7 linked regions of the Homo sapiens genome follow. The protein of the gene in region 7 purifies or fractionates together with the protein of the main gene of each other region. This does not show direct contact. Each region holds a gene or a part of one and is shown on either strand. Other genes may lie near its edges. The genes, in order: XIRP1, KBTBD8, KIAA0232, CEP164, PTPN14, CRYBG1 and SOCS7.

The links.
Region 1: the proteins of SOCS7 (region 7) and XIRP1 purify together in Homo sapiens (affinity purification with mass spectrometry; one large-scale study listed by BioGRID and IntAct). This does not show direct contact.
Region 2: the proteins of SOCS7 (region 7) and KBTBD8 purify together in Homo sapiens (affinity purification with mass spectrometry; one large-scale study listed by BioGRID and IntAct). This does not show direct contact.
Region 3: the proteins of SOCS7 (region 7) and KIAA0232 purify together in Homo sapiens (affinity purification with mass spectrometry; one large-scale study listed by BioGRID and IntAct). This does not show direct contact.
Region 4: the proteins of SOCS7 (region 7) and CEP164 purify together in Homo sapiens (affinity purification with mass spectrometry; one large-scale study listed by BioGRID and IntAct). This does not show direct contact.
Region 5: the proteins of SOCS7 (region 7) and PTPN14 purify together in Homo sapiens (affinity purification with western blotting, with the first as the bait; one study listed by BioGRID). This does not show direct contact.
Region 6: the proteins of SOCS7 (region 7) and CRYBG1 purify together in Homo sapiens (affinity purification with mass spectrometry; one large-scale study listed by BioGRID and IntAct). This does not show direct contact.

Annotation. Positions count from the first base shown.
Region 1 is NC_000003.12:39,186,156-39,189,595, reverse strand, and holds part of XIRP1 (xin actin-binding repeat-containing protein 1), read left to right. Parts: intron 1-70; 5' UTR 71-150; coding exon 151-3,440. UniProt on the Homo sapiens protein: Protects actin filaments from depolymerization. Required for correct cardiac intercalated disk ultrastructure via maintenance of cell-cell adhesion stability, and as a result maintains cardiac organ morphology, conductance and heart beat rhythm.
Region 2 is NC_000003.12:67,004,807-67,008,306, reverse strand, and holds part of KBTBD8 (kelch repeat and BTB domain-containing protein 8), read right to left. Parts: intron 386-3,500; coding exon 1-385. UniProt on the Homo sapiens protein: Substrate-specific adapter of a BCR (BTB-CUL3-RBX1) E3 ubiquitin ligase complex that acts as a regulator of neural crest specification.
Region 3 is NC_000004.12:6,785,727-6,789,226, reverse strand, and holds part of KIAA0232 (uncharacterized protein KIAA0232), read right to left. Parts: intron 1-3,500.
Region 4 is NC_000011.10:117,326,410-117,330,653, reverse strand, and holds the start of CEP164 (centrosomal protein of 164 kDa), read right to left. Parts: upstream 2,801-4,244; 5' UTR 2,750-2,800; exon of another isoform or gene 2,446-2,749; intron 1-2,445. UniProt on the Homo sapiens protein: Plays a role in microtubule organization and/or maintenance for the formation of primary cilia (PC), a microtubule-based structure that protrudes from the surface of epithelial cells. Plays a critical role in G2/M checkpoint and nuclear divisions.
Region 5 is NC_000001.11:214,348,200-214,350,401, forward strand, and holds the end of PTPN14 (tyrosine-protein phosphatase non-receptor type 14), read right to left. Parts: 3' UTR 501-2,202; downstream 1-500. UniProt on the Homo sapiens protein: Protein tyrosine phosphatase which may play a role in the regulation of lymphangiogenesis, cell-cell adhesion, cell-matrix adhesion, cell migration, cell growth and also regulates TGF-beta gene expression, thereby modulating epithelial-mesenchymal transition.
Region 6 is NC_000006.12:106,514,217-106,517,716, forward strand, and holds part of CRYBG1 (beta/gamma crystallin domain-containing protein 1), read left to right. Parts: intron 1-3,500. UniProt on the Homo sapiens protein: May function as suppressor of malignant melanoma. It may exert its effects through interactions with the cytoskeleton.
Region 7 is NC_000017.11:38,365,344-38,368,843, reverse strand, and holds part of SOCS7 (suppressor of cytokine signaling 7), read right to left. Parts: coding exon 3,435-3,500; intron 3,003-3,434; exon of another isoform or gene 2,811-3,002; intron 2,558-2,810; coding exon 2,427-2,557; intron 963-2,426; coding exon 794-962; intron 1-793. UniProt on the Homo sapiens protein: Substrate-recognition component of a cullin-5-RING E3 ubiquitin-protein ligase complex (ECS complex, also named CRL5 complex), which mediates the ubiquitination and subsequent proteasomal degradation of target proteins, such as DAB1 and IRS1.

The sequences.
Region 1 (3,440 bases), on a different chromosome or scaffold from region 7:
AGGAGTCTCTAAGCGTAAGTCACCCAGAGCTACTCTGACTCTGAGCCCTGTTTACTACCATTTCTCCCAGCATCCAGCCTCTACCCTGCTGAACATCTAGATCTAAGGCTCCCAATCCCATCCTCATCTCTGCCCCTTCTTCTCAGAAGGATGGCCGACACCCAGACACAGGTGGCCCCCACACCAACCATGAGGATGGCAACTGCAGAGGACCTGCCCCTCCCTCCACCCCCAGCCCTGGAGGACCTGCCACTGCCGCCACCCAAGGAATCCTTCTCCAAGTTCCATCAGCAGCGGCAAGCTAGTGAGCTCCGCCGCCTCTACAGGCACATCCACCCTGAGCTCCGCAAGAATCTGGCTGAGGCTGTGGCCGAGGATCTGGCTGAGGTCCTGGGCTCTGAGGAACCCACCGAGGGTGACGTTCAGTGCATGCGCTGGATCTTTGAGAACTGGAGACTGGATGCCATTGGAGAACACGAGAGGCCAGCTGCCAAGGAGCCCGTGCTGTGTGGTGACGTCCAGGCCACCTCCCGCAAGTTTGAGGAAGGCTCCTTTGCCAACAGCACAGACCAGGAGCCAACCAGGCCCCAGCCAGGTGGAGGAGACGTTCGTGCAGCCCGCTGGCTATTTGAGACAAAGCCACTGGACGAGCTGACAGGGCAAGCCAAGGAACTGGAGGCCACTGTGAGGGAGCCTGCAGCCAGCGGAGATGTGCAGGGTACCAGGATGCTCTTTGAGACGCGGCCGCTGGACCGCCTGGGCTCCCGCCCCTCCCTGCAGGAGCAGAGCCCCTTGGAACTGCGCTCAGAGATCCAGGAGCTGAAGGGTGATGTGAAAAAGACAGTGAAGCTCTTCCAAACGGAGCCCCTGTGTGCCATCCAGGATGCAGAGGGCGCCATCCATGAGGTCAAGGCCGCATGCCGGGAGGAGATCCAAAGCAACGCGGTGAGGTCTGCCCGCTGGCTCTTTGAGACCCGGCCTCTGGACGCCATCAACCAGGACCCCAGCCAGGTGCGGGTGATCCGGGGGATTTCCCTGGAGGAGGGGGCCCGGCCCGACGTCAGTGCAACTCGCTGGATCTTTGAGACACAGCCCCTGGATGCCATCCGGGAGATCTTGGTAGATGAGAAGGACTTCCAGCCATCCCCAGACCTTATCCCACCTGGTCCAGATGTTCAGCAGCAGCAGCATCTGTTTGAGACCCGAGCGCTGGACACTCTGAAGGGGGACGAAGAGGCTGGAGCAGAGGCCCCACCCAAGGAGGAAGTGGTCCCTGGTGATGTCCGCTCCACCCTGTGGCTATTTGAAACAAAGCCCCTGGATGCTTTCAGAGACAAGGTCCAAGTGGGTCACCTACAGCGAGTGGATCCCCAGGACGGTGAGGGGCATCTATCCAGTGACAGCTCCTCAGCACTGCCCTTCTCTCAGAGTGCCCCCCAGAGGGATGAGCTAAAGGGGGATGTGAAGACTTTTAAGAACCTTTTTGAGACCCTTCCCTTGGACAGCATTGGACAGGGTGAGGTTCTGGCCCATGGGAGTCCAAGCAGAGAAGAAGGAACTGATTCTGCTGGGCAGGCCCAGGGCATAGGGTCCCCAGTGTATGCCATGCAGGACAGCAAGGGCCGCCTCCATGCCCTGACCTCTGTTAGCAGAGAGCAGATAGTCGGAGGTGATGTGCAGGGCTACAGGTGGATGTTTGAGACACAGCCCCTAGACCAGCTCGGCCGAAGCCCCAGTACCATCGACGTGGTGCGGGGCATCACCCGGCAGGAAGTGGTGGCTGGGGACGTTGGCACAGCTCGGTGGCTTTTTGAGACCCAGCCCCTGGAGATGATCCACCAACGGGAGCAGCAGGAACGACAGAAAGAAGAAGGGAAGAGTCAGGGAGACCCCCAGCCTGAGGCACCCCCAAAGGGCGATGTGCAGACCATCCGGTGGTTGTTCGAGACTTGCCCAATGAGTGAGTTGGCCGAAAAGCAGGGGTCAGAGGTCACAGATCCCACAGCCAAGGCTGAGGCACAGTCCTGCACCTGGATGTTCAAGCCCCAACCTGTGGACAGGCCAGTGGGCTCCAGGGAGCAGCACCTGCAGGTTAGCCAGGTCCCGGCTGGGGAAAGACAGACAGACAGACACGTCTTTGAGACCGAGCCTCTTCAGGCCTCAGGCCGTCCCTGTGGAAGACGGCCTGTGAGATACTGCAGCCGCGTGGAGATCCCTTCAGGGCAGGTGTCTCGTCAGAAAGAGGTTTTTCAGGCCCTGGAGGCAGGCAAGAAGGAAGAACAGGAGCCCCGGGTAATCGCTGGGTCCATCCCCGCGGGTTCTGTCCACAAGTTCACTTGGCTTTTTGAGAATTGTCCCATGGGCTCCCTGGCAGCTGAGAGCATCCAAGGGGGCAACCTCCTGGAAGAGCAGCCCATGAGCCCCTCAGGCAACAGGATGCAAGAGAGCCAGGAGACTGCAGCTGAGGGGACCCTGCGGACTCTGCATGCCACACCTGGCATCCTGCACCATGGAGGCATCCTCATGGAGGCCCGAGGGCCAGGGGAGCTCTGTCTTGCCAAGTATGTGCTCTCGGGCACAGGGCAGGGGCACCCTTATATACGAAAGGAGGAGCTGGTGTCAGGTGAACTTCCCAGGATCATCTGCCAAGTCCTGCGCCGGCCAGATGTGGACCAGCAGGGGCTGCTGGTGCAGGAAGACCCAACTGGCCAGCTCCAACTCAAGCCGCTGAGGCTGCCAACTCCAGGCAGCAGTGGGAATATTGAAGACATGGACCCTGAGCTCCAGCAGCTGCTGGCTTGCGGTCTTGGGACCTCCGTGGCAAGGACTGGGCTGGTGATGCAGGAGACAGAGCAGGGCCTGGTCGCACTGACTGCCTACTCTCTGCAGCCCCGGCTAACTAGCAAGGCCTCTGAGAGGAGCAGCGTGCAGCTGTTGGCCAGCTGCATAGATAAAGGAGACCTGAGTGGCCTGCACAGTCTGCGGTGGGAGCCCCCGGCTGACCCGAGTCCAGTGCCAGCCAGCGAGGGGGCCCAGAGCCTGCACCCAACTGAGAGCATCATCCATGTTCCCCCACTGGACCCCAGCATGGGGATGGGGCATCTGAGAGCCTCAGGGGCCACCCCTTGCCCTCCTCAGGCCATTGGAAAGGCAGTCCCTCTGGCTGGGGAAGCTGCAGCACCAGCCCAATTGCAAAACACAGAAAAGCAGGAAGACAGTCACTCTGGACAGAAAGGGATGGCAGTCTTGGGAAAGTCAGAAGGAGCCACGACTACCCCTCCGGGGCCTGGGGCCCCAGACCTCCTGGCCGCCATGCAGAGTCTGCGGATGGCAACAGCTGAAGCCCAGAGCCTGCACCAGCAAGTTCTGAACAAGCACAAGCAGGGCCCCACCCCAACAGCCACTTCCAACCCCATCCAGGACGGTCTTCGGAAAGCTGG
Region 2 (3,500 bases), on a different chromosome or scaffold from region 7:
TCTGGGGTCTCATACACTTTCATCCACTGGTCAGCAATGTCATCATATTGGTAAAGGGAATTTTTTCTGCTGGTTCTGAAGACGTGTTCTTCAACAGTCACTTGAGTAGCTCGAACAAATAAATGGAGTTTGTTCTGGAAAAGTACCAGTTTAAGGTATGGATTTATGGACTGATCACATGGAAAGTCTTTCTTACGAGTCCATTTATTTAGCTCAATATCATAGGCTTCTACAGTAAACATACGTTGATGATTTCCACAGGTTCCAGCTATGTAGTAGATAGAGTCCTTGTATACAGCTGCTAAGCCCTGGATTCTAGGCACAGTCATGGGGGTTAAGAAACCCCAGTAGTCTTTTTGAGGCTCATAGAAGAGAAAAAATTCTCCTAAAAAAAAAAAAAAGAAAACAAGAATATGTAAATTTTTATGTTTGGTTTTTGGTTATATGTTGTAACTACAACCTCTAAAGATTAAAGGGCATAATTTGCTATATATTTCACTTTCTAAAACATTTCTTTTATAATCTCCAGAGATACATTCATATGGGTTACAAAATACCTTAAAACTTTGTCATTCCATGACACAATATAACAGATAATATTATAATCAACCTGAATTGGGAGGTTTGTATTGGGAAGGTACAAGGAGTTACTTGGGCTTGATGGCAGAATTGTTAAGAGCTTGATTCTGGCCAGGCACAGTGGCTCACGCCTGTAATCCCAGCACTTTGGGAGGCTGAGACGGGTGGATTACTTGAGGTCAGGAGTTTGAGACCAGCCTGGCCAACATGGTGAAACCCCATCTCCATTAAAAATACAAAAATTAGCCAGGTGTGGTGGCAGGCACCTGTAATTCCAGCTACTCAGGAGGCTAAGGCAGGAGAATCACTTGAACCCAGGAGGTGAAGGATGCAGTGAGCCAAGATCACGCCACTGCACTCCAGCCTGGGTAACAATGTGAGACTCCATCTCAAAAAAAAAAAAAAAAACACAAACTTGATTCTATTTGCTCTATCCAATTTGTGTGTTTATAGAAAATTCATTTTACTCTAGCTCTAAAAAAGCATTATTAGTAACGTTCAGCCAGTAAGACCAAAATGCATACATGTAACATCATCATAAATATGCCATGATAAATGTGTATGCTATTTAATTAGAAGACAGCAGATGGAATTGTGCAGATTTATGCTTATGGGTCACTGATGTGCTTACCTGAATGTTGCTATAATGCAAAGAGAAATATTCAGCAGGAGAAAACATGACTTTAATAAGATAGAAAACACATACATGGTTTGTGATGTTGACTTTGAGTCAGTTTCTATTTTGATTTGATAATAAAAAGGTATGCTGAGTCAGACTGCCAATATGAAAATGTCTGAAAGAATTAAAGTAGTGAAGATTTACAATAGTTTTGCTAATTATAGCATTTGTTTAAAATCTTTGTAATAAAAATCTGAACACTTTATGAACAGATTAAATGATACTTCAATAGCCACAGATAGTACAACATAAGCTTCTGACTATGCATGTCAGGTTTATTTATGTAAAGAGGCTTTGTTTAGATTAGAAATACCAGATTCTAAATTGAGCTTCCCCTTGAAAACTGTTTTGAACTAGGGTTACTCTTATCTACAAATTCAACTACGTACTTCGTAACAGTGATGCTTTGCCTTCAACTAACTTAAAATAGCTTGTAAAGCTCCCAGATTTGCTCGCACATCATCTGCCCTTATTGCCTAACTTGTAACAGGATTCTCGATAAATAAGGTAGGAAATTTAAACTTTGTAATGTGTGCTACTTCTCTATAAATTTCTTATAGATAAGAAAGTAAAGACGACACACCAAAGAAGTTGAATGTTAAAATCTAAAGTACTCTTTAATAAAAGTTAAAGCTAATAATATGCAATTAAGAAACCCTTAGGGCTTCAGAGTCCTCTTATATAAAATATAACCTCAAATTAAATGATGTTAATAATTCCAGCCCTGAAATTCTATTAATTCATTGCTAGTTTGCTTTAGTATTTGCATTAATATACAAACTTCACATTCCAAATAGGAATCTAATTCTACCTCTACCAACTAACAGTTAGGCAGTAAGACCAAAATACACACATACACAGACAGCTTCATCATACTGGATGACATAACCTATCCAAGTATACTGGACGGATCATACATCCATTCTTATATTCCATTTTTCCACAAGACAGCAAACCCAAATCATGGCCTGTGCTTCTATTTAACTAAAATAAGGAACCAGAGAGTACAACTCCTTCTGAGGAATTAACTTGACACTGAACTTAAACAAATGAGCTCAGATATTACTAGGAAATTTTTAGTTAAATAAAGGATTAGAGCAAGGAACACAATTTTTAAAAGAAAACAATGGTGGGAGGCCAAGGTGGGTGGATCACTGCAGGTCAGGAGTTCAAGACCAGCCTGGTCAACATAGTGAAACGCCGACTCTACCAAAAATAAAAAAATTAGCCAGGCATGGTGGCAGATGCCTGAGACTGAGGTGGAAGAATCATGTGAACCCAGGAGGCGGAGGTTGAAGTCAGCCAAGATCATGCCACTGCACTCCAGCCTGGGTGACAGAGTGAGACCCTGCCTCAAAAAAAAAAAGAGAAAGAAAGAAATGAAAGAAAAGAAGGGAAGGGGAAGGGGGAGGGGAAAGAAGAAAGAAAGAAAACAATGGGATAAGGGCAGTCATGCATCAATTAATGACAGGGACATATTCTGAGAAATGCATCATTAAGTGATAGTTGTCCTTGTGGGAAGAACATCATAGAGCATACTTACACAAACCTAGATGGGAGCTTACTACACACCTAGGCTACAAAACTGTACAGCATGTGACTGTACTGAGTACTCTAGGCAACTGTAACACAATGGGAAGCATTTTTGTATCTAAACATATCTAAACATGGAACAAGTACAGTAAAAATATGCTATCATAATCTTATAGGACCACCATTGTGTATGTGATCCATCATTGACCAAAACATTACATGGCACATGACTGTATATCTTCATAGAAGCTGCTCCTTTTCCTTAAGTAGTAGTGTGAGAAAAACATCAATTAAGAGACACATACGAGGAATAAGGATGTTGCTATTATCTACACTGCATTAAACATTCAAGCAACTAAAATGTGTAAGAAACCAAATAAAAGGAAAATAGTTATCACAAATCAGAGCCTTGAATCAAATGTCTTATTTACTCTGACTCAGTCACTCTACCTCTACTGTATTTTTGCCAAAGTAGTAGTCCTTAACAGTTAAAAAAACAAACAGAAAACAAAACAAAACAAACACTACATATATCAGATAGTCCCACTTAAAATGGCAAACCAAAAAAAAGGGACATCTCAAAGTTTTCCGGTGAAAAAAATTGAAAATGTATTATGAAAGGCAACATAAACAGCAGTGAAGGTGAAACTTGAAGACCATACTTCCAAACTCTTTGTAATTAAATTTCATAATTTTTGCAATAATAAGG
Region 3 (3,500 bases), on a different chromosome or scaffold from region 7:
GGCCAAAGCGGGCAGACCACGAGGTCAGGAGATAAAAACCATCCTGGCTAACACGGTGAAACCCAGTCTCTACTAAAAATACAAAAAATTAGCCGGGCGTTGTGGTCGGGCGCCTGTAGTCCCAGCTACTCGGGAAGCTGAGGCAGGAGAATGGCGTGAACCCAGGAGGTGGAGTTGGCAGTGAGCCGAGATCGCGCCACTGCACTCGAGCCTGGGCGACAGAGCGAGATTCTGTCTCAAAATAAAAATAAAAAAAAAAGAAAGAAAATGAGATTTTTTTCTTTACACACACACCAGAAATAAATATGTGAACACTGTCATAATAAACTAGCATATACAATTAACCAGTGTATCCAACCACTAGTGTCGTCTCCACCTATTCAAATTAATAGCTAAAAGCTGCCACTTACTGAGCACTTACTATATGCTGGGCCCTGTTCTGAGTGTGTCACGTGGATTCACTAAGTTCTCATACAAAGTTATTCCAACTCTATCCTCCTCCTCCTGAAATCAGAGACTGTAAATTTTGAGTTAATTCAGTCAAACATTTAACAAATGAGTACTATGTAAAAGACTATATTGCACACTAGAGGAAATCAGAAATGATTAAGATTTTCCTCTACATCTCTCAAGGAGTTTATAATCCAGGAAAGACCTTCATGTATATAAACTAAAAAGTCATAAGGAAAAAATAGATAAGTAGAGGTATCAGGCTAGCACTGTGTGGGAGAAAAATAATGAGTTAATTCTGAAAATCAGGTTACAGAAATAGAAGTAGCAGCATTTAAGCCAAGACTCCAAGACTCAGAAAGAGAGAGAAAGGTGGAAAGGATATTTCAGAGTAGTCTGCCAATAACGGAAGTGGCCAGAGGTCTTGTGTTGAAATATAAGGTGACAAGAAGAGATGCAGGCTGGGCGTGGTGGCTCGTGCTTATAATCTCGGCACTTTCGGAGGCCAAGGCGGGCAGATTACTTGAGCCCAGGAGTTTGAAGCCAGTCTAGGCAACAGAGCAAAACCCCATCTCTACAAAAAATTAGCCAGGCGTTATGTGCCTGTAGTCCCAGCTACTCAGGAGGCCAAGGCAGCAGGAGGAAGGGAGGTGGAAGTTGCAGTGAGCCAAGATGGCACCGCTGCACTCCAGCATGAGTGACAGAGTAAGACCCTGTCTCAAAAACACAAAAACGAAAAAGAAGAGATCCAATAAAAGATTAAGCTAAAAGTAAGAATGAGGCTAGATAGCAAAGATCTTACAGTGATTTCCTAACTCTTTAACATTAATTCTCAACCAGGGGAGGAGTGTGGTAGCACTTCCAAGGTAAAAATCTTGGGAGGAGAAAGCCCATAACCTTACCAACAAAACTGTCGTATCCCTCAGGTGTGATGGAATAGAGGGAAATGTTGAGAACCTCTGGTGTATACTTGGGAAATGGGTCATGATATGATTTGATTTGCCTATTAAATAATTCTGGCAACAGAACAGAGGAGGAGAGACCAGAAAAAAGAGAGGCCAGTTGGAGGACTACAGTAACTATCTTCATAAGGAGTAAGAGCTTCAGGGAGGGTAGGGGCAGAGGAAACATGAAAGAGTAAAGAAAAAGACTGATGGAAAAGACTCATGGAGGCAAACCTGGTAAAAATCTGGTCAAGAAAGGAAGTCTCTAAAGGTTTCCAGGCTGGGTAACAAGTAGGACAAAAATGCTATAAAGCAAAACATCTGATTACCTTGTATCTGTGTAAGGATGTGCAGTACACAAAGCATAGCCTCTTTAAATGTACTACAAAGCAACAGGAATAACCGTTCTCAGTTCCCAAATAAAGACTGACTGACTTCCAAAGGGATTTAACAAACTTGTTCACGGCCAAGAAGCAAACCTGAGTCTTTCAAATCCAGTTCTAATATTCTTTTAAGAAGCCCCCTCAAACGCAATTGCTTTTGATGCATATAATAAATTTCTAAAAAAGAAAACTTTTAAAGAAAAAGCATGTAATCTCTTGGGAATTAAATTATACTTCAAATATAAGGATTTTTTTTTTTTTTTTTTTTTTTTGAGAGAGCCTTGCTCTGTCGCCAGGCTGGAGTCCAGTGGTGTGATCTTGGTTCACTGCAACCTCCACCTCCCGGGTTCAAGAGATTCTACTGCCTCAGCCTCCCAAGTAGCTGGGACTATAGGCGTGCTCCACCATGCCCGGATAATTTTTGTATTTTTAGTAGAGATGGGGTTTCACCATGTTGGCCAGGATGGTCTCACTCTCTTGACCTCATGATCCGCCCGCCTCGGCCTCCCAAGGTGCTGGAATTACAGGCGTGAGCCACCGCGCCCGGCCAATACAAGGAATATTTTTAACCTTGTGCTCTGGTTCCCTCTGCCCAAAAAATGGGTCGGTGATTCACAGTCAGCAATGCAGGCACTTCATCTATTTCATTAGACCCTACAAGTTTAGATACAAATGGGAAAGATGACAGTTTTTACTTTGTATAAAATACCACTTATGTGATTATGTGAAAGACCAAAAATAACTGTAAAGAAATATTCTAAATAGTAACTATATTCAACATAGTAAAACTACATTTCTAATGTTGTTGTGGGCACCGATGTTTATTAAAAATACTTCATCTGGGTCTTGTGCGGTGGCTCATGCTTGTAATCCCAGCACTTTGGGAGGTTGAGGTGGGAGGATTGCTTGAGCCCAGGAGTTCGAGATCAGCCTGGGCAACACAGGGAGACCCGTTTCTACAAAAAAACAAATTGTTTTAATTAGCTGAGCATGGTGGTGCATGCCCGTGGTCCCAGCTACTCAGGAGGCTGAGGTGGGAGGATCACTTGAGCCTGGGAGGTTGAGGCTACAGTGAGCCACGATCACACCACCGCACTCCAAGCCTGGGTGACAAAGCAAGATGCTGTCTCAAAAACAAACAAACTTTATTTGCAGACTTAAGCCAGGGTCAGAAAAAATAAAAATAAATATACTTTATAATATTAACATACTCTTTAAGGTTGATTACAGACTTTGACTTTATTTAGCAAACATTTAAACACTTACATTTAACATTAAGCACTTATGTTTAAACGCCTGAGCAAGGTGTTGGGGGCAAAATGATAGGATAGACACCACAGCCAGAGTTTACTATGACCAATTTATAATACAACATGATATAGACAATAATGAAGGAAAAATAGAGAACTATGATTGAGGAAAGGAATAATTCATTGTAATAGGACTTCCAAAGGACTCCAGAGAGAACAGAATATTTGATATGAACTTTTAAGAACTGGAGGGAGTGGGAGTGAGACAGGACATTCCAATAAGAGAAAAGAATATAAGCAAAGAAGGTCTGAAATAGCTTGGCATGTTCAGAGAACCAAGAGCAGTCTTGTTTAGCTGGACAGTGTGGAAAGGGGACAAAGAGGACAAGATAAAGTACAGAGATGACTGGGGGCCAGACTGCAAGGGGCCTGCATTGTGATGCTGGTATCTCTGAATTCTAAGCTCCAAACCA
Region 4 (4,244 bases), on a different chromosome or scaffold from region 7:
TTTTGAGACAGAGTATCATTCTTGTCACCCAGGCTGGGGTGCAATGGCACGATCTCTGCTCACTGCAGCCTCTGCCTCCCAGGTTCAAATGATGCTCCTGCCTCAGCCTCACGAGTAGCTAGGATTACAGGCGCCTGCCACCACGCCCGGCTAATTTTTGTATTTTTAGTAGAGATGGGGTTTCACCATGTTGGCCAAGTCTCGAACTCCTGACCTCAGGTGATCCGCCCGCCTTGGCCTCCCAAAGTGCTGAGATTACAGGCGTGAGTCACCGCGCCAAGTAATCACTTACTGAACACCCACCATGGGCCAGACATTGTGCGACGTGTTAGGGCTACAAACCTGATTACACATGGCCCTGAACTTGAGCTCAGCCTACCTGGAAAGCCAAACACGTAAACACATGACTACAAAATGTGTTACATGAATTAAAGGAAGTAACATAATATATAACAGAACACAAAGGTAAGGGCAAATAATCTTAGGAAGATCAGGGAAAGCCTCACAGAGGACAATTGAGATAGTTCTTGAAGGATAAGCAGGTGATCCCCAGGATAAGCGGAGTAAGGGAATTCACGGCAGAGGAACAACATGCACAAAGGCAAAAAAGAAGAAAATCATAAGGTGGGTGCAAAGAATTAATTATGACAACAAAAGCTTATAGCCACTGAACACTTCCTATGTTACAGGAACTGTACTGAGTGCTCTATATACATCATCTCACTTCATCCACTCAGCAAAATAGAATTATCTTCACTTTTCAAATAAGGAAACTGAGGCTTAGCAAAGTTAAAAAAAAAAAAAAAAAAAAAAAGGCCAGGCGCAGTGGCTCACGCCTGTAATCCCAGCACTTTGGGAGGCGGAGGTGGGCGGATAATGAGGTCAGGAGATCCTGACCAGCCTGGCCAACATGGTGAAACCCCGTCTCTACCAAAATACAAAAAATTAGCCAGGAGTTGTGGTGCCCACCTGTAGTCCCAGCTACTCGGGAAGCTGAGGCAGGAGAATCGCTTGAACCCAGGAGACTGAGACTGCAGTGAGCCAAGATCGCACCACTGCACTCCAGCCTGGGCGACAGAGCAAGACTCTATTTCAAAACAAACAAACAAACAAACAAACTTGCCCAAGGTGTCACAGCTAATAAACGGTAGAGCAGAATATGTAAGTATCCATGTCTGACTCCAAAGCCCAAACTCTTAACCATTCTGACATGACCAGAGTGCAAGGGACAGTGGGAGGAGTGGCAAGACAGAGCTCTAGAATGAAAGGCAAGAGCATATTATAAAGGGCCTGGAAGAACAGAGGCTCTATCCTGTAAATGATGAGGGGCCATCACAGGATTTCACAAAGGAGACTGGCATGACCAGATCTGTAGGTCAGATAGACGATTCTAGCCAAGAATAGTGGTGCATGCCTGTAGTCCCGTCTACTAAGGAGACTGAGGTGGGAGGATGGCTTGAGGGCAAGAGTTCGAGGCTGCAGTGTACTAGGGTCACACCGGTGAATACCAACTGCACTCCAGCCTGGGCAACATACCAAGACCCTGTCTCTAAAATAAATAAATGATTCTGACAGCTGCATAAGAACTAATTACAGGAGGACAAGAACTGAGGCAGAGAGACCACTTAGGAAGTTATCCTGAAAGCACAAGCAAGAAATTATGAACTAAGTCAGTGTCTGTGAGGATGGAAAGGAAGCGCCAGATTCTAGGGGAATTAAGAGGCAGAATACAGGACTTGAACTTCGGGAGAGAGGAGGGAAATCAGAGCACTAAAGCCAGAACACTGTGACTATCATTTCTAGATGTGTTCATTTCTATGCCTCGTCCAATAGGCAGCCCCACCTACTACACTGCCTAGAAGACAGGGCATGTCCGACAAATGTTTGCTGTATTTATTAGATGAATAAATTAAAGGGACAGACTTGGCTGAGTGAATGGTGAAGCCCTTCATTGAGATAAAAAAATACAAGAGGAGAAACAGATCGGAGGGACCGGGGAAGGCTGACGATGACAGTAAGCAGGTCTGAGCTCAGGAAAGAGGTCTGGCTGGAGTAGTTTGGCGAGTCAACGCTGAAAAGCTGATAACGCAAGAGATGGAGTGCGCCGAGTAGAAGGGAGCTTTCTACTGCCAAGGACTGAGTTAGGAGAACGGACAGGGAGTCGCTGAAGCCAAGTGAGGAGAGCGGTGCCAGAGGTAGAGGGACATTTTTAAATCCAATGCAAGAAAAGGAAAAAACAAAAAAGCTTTCCAACTTTCCCAGCTGGCCAAAGATGGCATAAGATTGGGCTAGCCCCGGATTTGGACCCGGGGGGAAGCCTGCCACAGAAGTATCCCAGCAAGCTTCGGAAGGCCTGGCCTCACTCGCCAACGATGAACAGAGCAAGCAAACCAGGGCCCCGTGCCCAGTGCCCCTCTCCCGCGTCCCGACCCGCTGCTCACTCACCCGCCAGACCCCCAGCCCGGGCCCGGTGGCCCGCTCAGGAGCCGGCGAGATTTCAAACGGAGGAACTGTCGCCTGGCAGTCCGATTTTCACTTCTTCCCTCAGTCCCCGCCCACACTCGAGCGCATCACGCTCGTTGGCTCGAGAGCGTGCCTCGGGTCCCCCGCCACGCTCGCTCCCTTCCCCGCCGCCCAACCCCTCCCTCGATGAGGTCCTCAACTATCCCCCACCCCGGAAGGCTCCGGGCGAGGCTCCGGGCGAGGCTCTGGGCGAGGCGCAGCTCCCCCAACGCCACCCAACACCCACCCGCTCCCCCAGCTTCCAGGGACGCCGGGGTGTTGCCCTGCAGCGCGCAACAAACACTTCCGGAAAAGGTACCGCCTAGCAACCGGGAGTCCCGCCTCCAGCAGGAGCCAATAGGTCGCCGGCTGAGAGCTGTGACAATGGATTGGCTCGAAGTCCCTTCGGTGCACGCAGGAGCTCTGTCCGTTTTCCGTTGCACGATGGGAGTGTAGTTTAAGATAGATAATGGGAATCCGCAAGAGGTTGAAAGAGTGTAGTTTAAGATAGATAATGGGAATCCGCAAGAGGTTGAAAGAGAACCTCATCGGCTGGGCGCGGTGGCTCACGCCTGTAATTCCAGCAATTTGGGAGGCCGAGGCGGGTGGGTCACCTGAGGTCAGGAGTTCGAGACCAGCCTGACCAACATGGTGAAACCCCTTCTCTACTAAAAAAAAAAAAAAAAAAAAAAGAGGACCCCGAGTTTAGACGTGAGGATTTCTGCCAGGACAGAGAAGGACTATTTAGAGTATTTATACTAATGTGAATTATCTAATTATCTAATTGATCATTTGTTAGGAGTATGATTAACATCAGGTGAATAATACAGTGGTCATCAATAATCAACCCATTGTTACTTTAATCAACAAAACAAATGTGAATGTAAGGTAATGGAGACGCGTCCACTCCCCATCTCTCCCCGCAAAAAAACTGGCTCTCCTGTGCTCCTATTAAACCAGTGAGCACCTGACCAGGAGTTAAACCTATTTTCTACTATCCATCTTTTCACCAAAGCCCAGGGTTCAGTTTGTATGTCTGCAAGATGGGGATAGTAATGTCTGTCATAACTATTTCAAAGAGTCTATTGAAGAAGAAAAAAAGTGACACAATGTGTAGCTCCTCCACACACCCTGTCGGGCAGAAAGGTTGCTACTAATATAATTCCGAAGAGTTTTAGTTTTGCTTGCACGGAGGGCAAATCTTCCTTTCTCTCATATGTCTCCAACCTCCTAGAGAAGTTAAGAGGGGCAAAGAAAGTTCTGGCCATTACATCAATAGGAAAACTGAGAAACAGACAAATACAGATGCTGCTAGTTGAGGAGGAAAATGATGAGGCCAAGCTCATAGAGCCGCTCCTGATAGGTTCTAGAGATGTAGCTGACTCAGGATAGTCCCAGTGCCACTCAGAGGCTGATTCCAGGATGAGAAACTCAGATTGTTGGAATATACAGAGCATATTCCTTGTGAAAATTATCAAAATCAAAATAGAGTCATTTGTTTTAAAACCCTGACAAATGGAGCCAGGGAAGACCATGAAGAGAGGGTTCTCACGCATGAATACCTGATAACAAAAACTATCGACCGGGCCTGGTGGCTCATATCTGTAATCCTAGCACTTTGCCAGGCACAGTGGCTCACACCTGTAATCCCAGCACTTTGGGAGGCCAAGGCGGGTGGATCACCTAAGGTCAGGAGTTCGAGACCAGCCTGGCCAATATGATGAAACCCCGTCTCTACTAAA
Region 5 (2,202 bases), on a different chromosome or scaffold from region 7:
GCATCTACCCACATATGAGGGGTTCACCGTGAATGTGCTATGGTGGTTACTGGCTGAAAGTCTGGGACAGGACAGCCACCTTTAAACCTGGACACAAGTTGAGCTGTTATAAAGCTGAAAGGCAAAAGCAAGAATTTAAATTTTCTACAGCAGCCTGGTTGGTGCCTGCCTTTTCCACATCAACAGTTTGGTACCTGAGTAAATGACAGTGAAGGAGGAGTGAGTAGGGGCTTGGAGCTTAACGAGGCTTATTGCTGCATTTGTGAGAAAGACCCATTTCTATGTATTCTTCACTCCACTTGCCTAGTGATCACCCCTTTCAGGTTTCTTCTAACAGTGACAACCTTGGGAATTTCAAACTAAATCTTCAGTATGATAAGGTTATGCAGGACTAAAAACTGGGTAGCAATAAATGGGCTTTAGAAAACAAAGCATGCAGGTTTTCCCAGGCACTTTCAACTAATGCAAACATATACAGTACAGAAAAGAGAAGATGTAACTTTTCTCTGAAAAAAAGGTTTATTGCATATGGAAATCAATAGATATCTTTTACAAAAAAAGGTTAGAATAAAGATCTCACATTTGTAAAGGCACATATGAAACATTTTATAGCAAGCACAAGGGCAGTGAGAACATCAACAAGGTCCAATATCTAAATAAGACTTTATAAAAACAGATAGGAAACAGTGCAAAAAATACTGTCAAAGTCAGTTCTATACACCTCATAACTGTGTATACAACTGGCAAGCATAAGCTTATTTACTGATATAAAATAGCACATAGAATAGCATGCATAGTTTTATTTTAGGCTTTTCATATTATTAAATTGATAGGGAGTCTATACCAAAGTACAGTTGACATGAATAGTGATAAAAATCACTCCCCAGCTTAGGGAATGTCCTATAAACATCTCACCCCTCCCTCTGCTTACAACTACAGTTTGGTAGTAAGGAGACTGGGCTTCCATCTTGCAAGGTGGCAAGCGGCCACCACAGGGGGCGAATGTGCTCTCAGGATCCCAAGTCCCAACCTGGAATGCATTTCTTACGGCAACAACATAAGAGATGGTGATTAAATGTCTGGGTCAGCCCACAAAAGCCAACCAGATCTGGCTATCACAGCCCTCCATTTGGGCTGTGGTGGAGGTCAGTGGGCTTCTATGGGCTGACGCAAGAACCTTAAGAACAAACCGGTTTCTAAGTTGGGGACTTGTCTGTACATCGTTTCAAAATGAAACCTAATAAATGTCATTTGTTTTGAATGATACCAAAATTCACAACATTTTGTGAAACAAAGATCAAGGAAAGCATCAAAATACTGAAGTAGGGAGCACAAGCCTAGTCCAGTGAAACAAACTAGATTAGCTTGTTACTTGATGTAACACAAGTTACATAAGGTTACACATTTATTAGTAATTTGCATATTTAAACCTTTTTTTCCACTGAAGTATCCTCAAGCACATTAATTAGCTATTGAAGGAACAAAGGACATACATAGGAACTCATCTCTGATGAAGAGTAGCTTTATGTCAGAAAGGAGAAGGCTAATGAATTTTTAAGATTCCAAACAGTGGCAAGAAAGTTCAAAGGAAATTGCAGTAAAATTGTACAATGTTCAAGTTGAAAAAAAAAATGGCTCTGAATTACAGCATTCAGTTCTATGCTCAAGGTATGTATTAGCTAACACTGCAGTTGTCAGAGGTGGGAGGCCCCTGAGAAATGCTGAGAATGCCAGGCACCCCAGTTCTGAGAGCCACCCTAGCTAAACTCAAAGCAGCATTCTTGAGATTTTAGCAAAAGGCTCCGCCCCAAGCCACAAAAAGATCCCAATCCAATCTTTTCAGCTTTATCCTCTAAAACCTTTTGTCAGATGAGATAGCATTTGTGTTTCCCAGGAGGAGAAGGTTGGGGAAGAAAATGAAGATAGCTTACATACAGATTTTGGATGACCCGCTAATCTTTCCCCTTCCTAGGTAAGTGAAAACAGATAAAATGTTTCTGGGCAGCCCAAAGGTTTACCACCTGTTTCACTAGAATGGCCAGTCTGTGTAAAGAGGCTATAATGACGAAAGCATTTTCCCTGCAGGGAGAAGCTAGAAACAAATGGGTCTTCCTATACATCAGTCTGCCAAATGCAGCCTCTCTCAATCTATATAAGTTCACCTCGAAATACATATTAAGTACTGCTGTCATCATTGTTTTA
Region 6 (3,500 bases), on a different chromosome or scaffold from region 7:
CTTCTCACACTTCTGCTCCCTCACCACTCCCACTTAGCACAGGTGAATAATGATTAAGTGCTTAAGTTTTTCCTCCATTCACATATTTGTTCAAGGAGTGGGTATTTTAACAACATTATCATTATAATTCTTGAACCTAATGGTTTCTTTCATTCTATTTGATTTCTTGGATAAGTAAGCTTAAGAGGAGGAGAGTTCTGATTGGGAGAACTCTGAGAACTCTGAGAGGGAAGTATGCGTAATGAATAACTTGACTACCTCACCAACTGCCAACCTGGAGACCTTTGATATAGTCAGTGATTTATTCTGTGATGGTAGGTAGCATCAGAGAAATGAGCTGGGTGAATGATGCCTATTATTTATAGAAGACCAGTGTGATTGAATGCTAAAGCCTCCTAAATGTGAGCCTTAGAGAAACATTGCTGTGTACCTTATGAAGGATGGTTCACCTGTCTTCCAATTAGAAGACACCAGTAGAAAAACCAGAAATGTTACACTGTGAAATAGTAGGCTAAACAAACAGGAAAGATGATCTTATAATGAAATTCTTCGTTTGCTGTTCTCTGTAATAGAACTAAACCAAATATGTCTTTCCCAGTTCTGATTAATTTATACCTAAAAATTTTCTTTACCAGACATTCAATGTATTTGTTTTGCGCAGTGCCTTGCACATGGTCATTTGGCAAATTATTGACTTAAAAATTAATAAGTATTTCTAGTCCTTTGACCCATTTCTTTGTGACTGATGGTTTTTTCAGACCCTTTAATTCTTCCTATGACCGTATCGCAAGATGTTAATCAGATTATTCTTTAAAACAATTTGAGACTGAAGAGTAAGAAAAACTATTTCGTATTTCCTGAAAAATGACACTGAAGTAGCATGTTCCTTTATGCTGTTAGAAAAATTATTACTTCAAGTTCTCTACCAAGTGCTGAATGTTGAAATTCTTAAAATGGTATATGTAGAATAAGGAGAATTTTCCTCTTATAATATAACTATGGCTTTTTGGACTCCAAATTATTTTCCCCTGTCTCATAATGAAGGCATTACAACATGAATTATAGGAGCCTTCCTTTTAATCAGTCTGAAGTAGGTTAATTGTAGTAACTCTTGGTAGCACAACTTAATAGCACAGAAAGTTTGGTTGTAAAATTTATTCTGATCTTCGTGTAAATCTTTAATGTGCAGATACGTGTTTCCTGTCCTTAAGGTAGCCTGTTGGCTAACCTGTAGTGTTTTCTATTTACATCATAAGATATACTTCGATGTTTGAATTGAGTACCCTTCCTTGAAATGATTAGTGAGAATTTTTAAAAAGTATATTCTCTGGTATGTGACCATCCCTCATTAACTGATAGCAAATTGAAGCTCTCTATTTCTAATCATCTCACTAGTTTCATAATTTGATCTTTGAGGAAATGCTTATAAATTAATTTTCCTTTTAAATTTAAGGTATGGGCCTGCAATAAGGGAGCCTAAGTATCTTATGGAGATATTGGGGAAAGCAATGCCTGGGAGAAATTTATGAGCAGAGATCAAATTTATTTATTTATTTATTTATTTATTTATTTATTTATTTATTTATTTATTTTTGAGACAGGATCTCACTCTGTTACCCAGGCTGGAGTGCAGTGGCATGATCATGGCTCACTGCAGTCTCGACCTCCCCCGGCTCAGGTGATCCTCCCACCTCAGCCTCCCTAGTAGCAGGGACTACAGGCGCACCACCATGTCTGGCTAATTTTTGTATTTTTTTAGAGACAGGATTTTGCCATGTTCCCCGGGCTGGTCTCAAACTCCTGGGTTCAAGTGATCCACCTGCCTCGGCCTCCCAAAGTGCTAGGATTACAGGCATCAGCCACTGATCCCAGCCTCAAATTTAGTATCAAGTAAAATTTGTAAAAATTAAAATCTGAATTCTCAGTGCTGCTTTTGGAGAGAATATTTTATCCAGAAGGATAAGTTGACTCACCAGCAGTCATACTGCCTGTCCCTTCTAGAAGCTCCTTAGGCCCAAGCTTCTTTTTTTTTTTTTAGACAGAGTCTCACTCTGTCGCCCAGGCTGGAGTGTAGTGGCACAATCTTGGCTCACTGCAACCTCCACCTCCCAGGTTTAAGCAATTCTCCTGCCTCAGCCTCCCAAGTAGCTGGGATTATAGGCCTGTGCCACCACACCTGGCTAATTTTTGTATTTTTAGTAGAGACAGGGTTTCACCATGTTGGCCAGGCTGGTCTGGAACTCCTGACCTGAAGTGATCCACCCGCTTTGGCCTCCCAAAGTGTAGGGATTACAAGCATGAGCCACCACACCCAGCCAGGCTCAAGCTTCATGAAGGCCAAGTCCATGAAGGAGAGGCAGTATGGGATTTCAGTGTCTCCACTTGTGTGTTCTCATTATCAAAGTGGCCTCTAAAGTCTATGTTATGTTATGGATCTCATGATAATTCACTGACTTTAAATGATAAAGATGGAAAGAACCAGAGGAGCTCATTCAGGCGGGTATAGTCCAAGCCTATCTGGGGAACCAGAATAGTATAGTGGTTGGGAGCATGGCATCTGAAGCCAGAGCACCTCACTTCAAACTGTGGCCCTGTCACTTATCAGCTGCATAACCTCAGGGAGTTACTTCTCAACACTTCAACTTCCTCAGCCAAAAATAGAATGTATAAAGTCGTATATTAATTAAGTAAGCCCGATGAAGCATTTGTCAAGGGCTTGACAATCACTGATTGTTAGTGGTTATGCTTTATCTCTCCCGTTTTATAAACCACTGGACTAATGGTTTAGACTTTTTTTTTTTTTTTTTTTTTGAGACAGAGTCTCACTTTGTCACCCAAGCTGGAGTGCAGTGGCATGACCATAGCTCACTGCAGCCTTGATCTTCTGGACTCAAGTGATCTCCCACCTCTGCCTTTGGAATAGCTGGGACTACAGGCACGCACCACTTCACCTGGCTAATTTTTTTGTTTGTTTTGTAGAGACTGGGTCTCAGTATGTTGCCCAGGCTGGTCTTGAACCCCTTGGCTCAAGCAATCCTCCCTCCTTGACCTCCCAAAGTACTGGAATATATATATACATATATATATACACACACACACACATATATATATACACATATATATATACACACACATATATATATACACATATATACACACACACATATACACACATATATATATATACACACACACATATATACACATATATATACACACACACATATATATACACACATATATATATACACACACACATATATATATACACACACACACACATATATATATATACACACACACATATATATAAGCTTTGGAATCCTTTCTTCTAAGAAAGTTTAAATAGGAGCAATAAATAAAACAGATACTAGGAGTGATTCTGCTTGAAAGGAGAGTGGACAGCCCCATCCTCATCCCTACTTTCCCCAACTGCAGCCCTTGAAGAGAACCCCAGGGATTCCTTCAACCATAAGTTGGGGGAAATAAAAACAACTCTG
Region 7 (3,500 bases):
AGAGGAAATTATCACCATGCTGCCTGGGAGAAAGTGACTATCAGACAAAGAAATTCAGACACACCTGTAATCCAAGCCCTTTGGGAGGCCGAGGCGGGTGGATCACCTGAGGTCAGGAGTTTGAGACCAGCCTGGCCAACAGAATAAAACACTGTTTCTACTAAAAATACAAAAATTAGCCAGGCCTGGTGGCACATGCCTGTAATCCCAGCTACATAGGAGGCTGAGGCAGAAGAATCACTTGAACCCAGGAGGCGGAGGTTGCAGTGAGCTGAGATCGCACCACTGCACTCCAGCCTAGGCAACAGAGCGAGACTCTGTCTCAAAAAAAAAAAAAGAAAGAAATTCAGAACAGAACAGTTACAGGATCAACACTAAATTCACCCTCTTTGTATACGTGATTTAACAAAATATCTCTAGATGATAAGTTTAACTACAAACAAAGCTTGTGAGAATTTGCCTAATGGTCCTAGGTTCTTTCTTCCTTTTACCTAAAGAGTTTTACCGGCTCATTTCTCGGGAGCCTCTCCAACAGTTTTGTTCAGGCCCTCCTATTTAGGAAACAAGATGCTGCTGACAAGACTTTTAAATGGAACCCTTACTCTCCCTTCCCTACCCCCTCCATTTCTTCTAGTGACGGAAATCAGCGCTCATATCAATATTCAACTGAGTCTAAGATAATTTTTCCCCTATTTGTAGTTCCATTCCTATGAATCTCTTCCACAAAAAAGTCAGACAGCAAAGGTAGAGCAAATCAAGGGGGGAAGAAGCCTCTCTTACCAGTATCTCTTACCTCTGTAGTGCTCCATTCTAGTGTGGTGGGTGATACCCTGTGATCGGAAACTGAGGCTCAGGATGTAACGAGGATCAGAACTGTCTCGTACCAGGAAAGAACCATCTGGTTTCCCTTTCAGCTTCATCTCTGCATCTTCCCAATTCATTGGCCCCCAATACCAACCACACTATCAAAGACAAGAAGCAGTCCACTAGTTATCAGGACAGAGAAATGTCAAAGTTTTCAGTGCAATCTATCTTAACATGGGAGAACCCTCTGCATTCTCTCCAAAATATTTCAATAGGTAAAAGCCACTTACAAGTGTCTCAACCATTAGCAATGAACATCAGGCTCACTATACTTTTAGCCCTCCAAAGTAACAGAATAATAATTCTGGCCGTGAGCTGTGGCTCATGCCTGTAATCCCAACACTTTGGGAGGCTGAGGCGGGTGGATCACTTGAGGTCAGGAGTTCGAGACCAGCCTGGCCAACATGGTGAAAACCCATCTCTACTAAAAATACAAAAATTAGCTGGGTTTGGTGGCACATGCCTGTAATCCCAGCTATTCAGGAGGCTGAGGCAGAAGAATCGCTTGAACCCAGGAGGTGGAGGTTGCAGTGAGCTGGTATTGCGCCACTGTACTCCAGCCTGGGTTACACAGTGAGACTCTGTGTCAAAAAAACAAAAAACAAAAAACAAAATGGCTGGGCGCAGTGGTTCACACCTGTAATCCCAGCACTTTGGGAGGCCAAGGCAGGTGGCTCACCTGAGGTCAGGAGTTCAAGACCAGCCTGGCCAACATGGTGAAACCCCATTTCTACTAAAAATACAGTAATTAGCTGGGCATGGTGGTGGGCGCCTGTAATACCAGCTACTCAGGAGACTGAGGCAGGAGAATTGCTTGAACCCAGGAGGCGGAGTTTTCAGTAAGCCGAGATTGCGCCACTGCACTCCAGCCTGGGCAACAAGAGCGAAACTCAGTCTCAAAAACAAAACAAGACAACAACAACAACAAAAAACAAAGAATAATAATTCTACAATTTTGTTACCAAAGACCCTACCAAGAAAAGAAGAGGGAACTGGGTCAGTTAATCTATCAAAATCAGCTTAGACTATGTAAAACATTTCTCCAACAACCTTTATCATGTCCAAATTTTTTCCCCAAATTCAATTTTATTACATCTCATGGAACTAATAGCAGGAGCACACTGTTTTGTCACTGTAAATATGGAAGCAAGTAAACTATTCTTCCTCTGAAAACAATAAACAGGGGCTGGGTGTGGTGGCTTACGCCTATAATCCTAGAGCTTTGGGAGGCAGAGGCAAGAGGATCACGTTGAGCCCAGGAGTTCAAGACCAGCCTGGGAAACTGCAAGACCAGTCTCTACAAAAAATATAAATAAATTTTAGCTGGGCTTGGTCGTGCATGCCTGCAGTCCTAGCTACTCAGGAGGCTGAGGCAGAAGGATCCTTTGGCCCAGGAGTTTGAGCCTACAGTGAGCTATGATTATGCCACCACACCCTAGCCTGGGCAACAGAGCCAGACCCTGTCTCTAAAAATAAATAAACACATAAATAAAGGTGTGTCCGAATACAGAATTTAGCTAATGGGAGGAGAAGTGACCTGCCAGTCCTTAGGTACCACCTACCTTCTCCAACTCTCGAAGGCTGGCTGCAAAGCTGCTCGAGTCAGGCCGGTAGAGGGGACACTGGAGGTGCTGTGGGGGTTGGCTGTGCAGGGATTCAGCTGCTCGGATGGGAGCAATCCGGGGAAATGCATCTGCAGGGCAAGACAGTGGTGGTCACTTGTTTACCCTCACTGCTCCCAACCACAAATAGACCCTCCCCCAAAAACAGAGGATGCTAACTGAAGAGGGCAAGGCATTAGAAGCTAAGCTGGAAAGGGTAGAAGCCAAAGCAGTGGCAAAGAGCTGGATGGGCTGGAACAAAAAGCTGTGTGGGCTTGTGTAAGCTGTGAAGGATGGGTGGGGGCACTTGACCCCAAGAAAGGGGGAGGGGAGCTGCTCACTAACCTTACTAAGGTGACTACTTCAGGGGCTTCACCAGCCTAGAGCGATTCCAACTTCTCCCACCTCGAAGTGAAGTGCCGATAAGGCAGCCTTGGAAATAGTGACTCGCTTACTTGCCCAGGAAGAGTAATGATTTTGCCAGGCAAGTAGAAAAGAATGCTGATTTCATTCATTTTATTCCTTGGGTACTGTAAGCTGGCAAAGCAGGTATGGGCTGCTAAATGCTTGGTACTTATTTACAAGGCTGCAGTAAATACTAAAAGCTTAGAAAAACCATAGAATGCTGAAAACCACCAACATATTAAACCTCACTATCCTGAAATTAAGGCAGTTTCTTAAGTGATATCTACTCAAGGATTGCAAAACAGTCTCAGCAGCAAAGACTGATGAAAAATTCAGTAGTCTTTCATCCCTAACAAAAATCAGATTGACCTCCATAAAGAAAACGGGTTAGGAAAACCAGTTCTCCGCCTCATTTCTAAGGAGTCTGGTCCAGCCAAGGGGAAAAGATTTAAACTTTCTACTAAGCTGTTATTTCCATAAATAGATTTCTCCCATCCTTCTATGGTAGAAAGTATCACTTTGTACTCCCAACTCTTACAAGTCTTGCCTCTAAACTAAGCTAACCTGGGGCATGGGGTGGAGGAGGCGGAGGTAGGGGGAAAGACTGCAAGGAAGACCCCATCGGAGCCA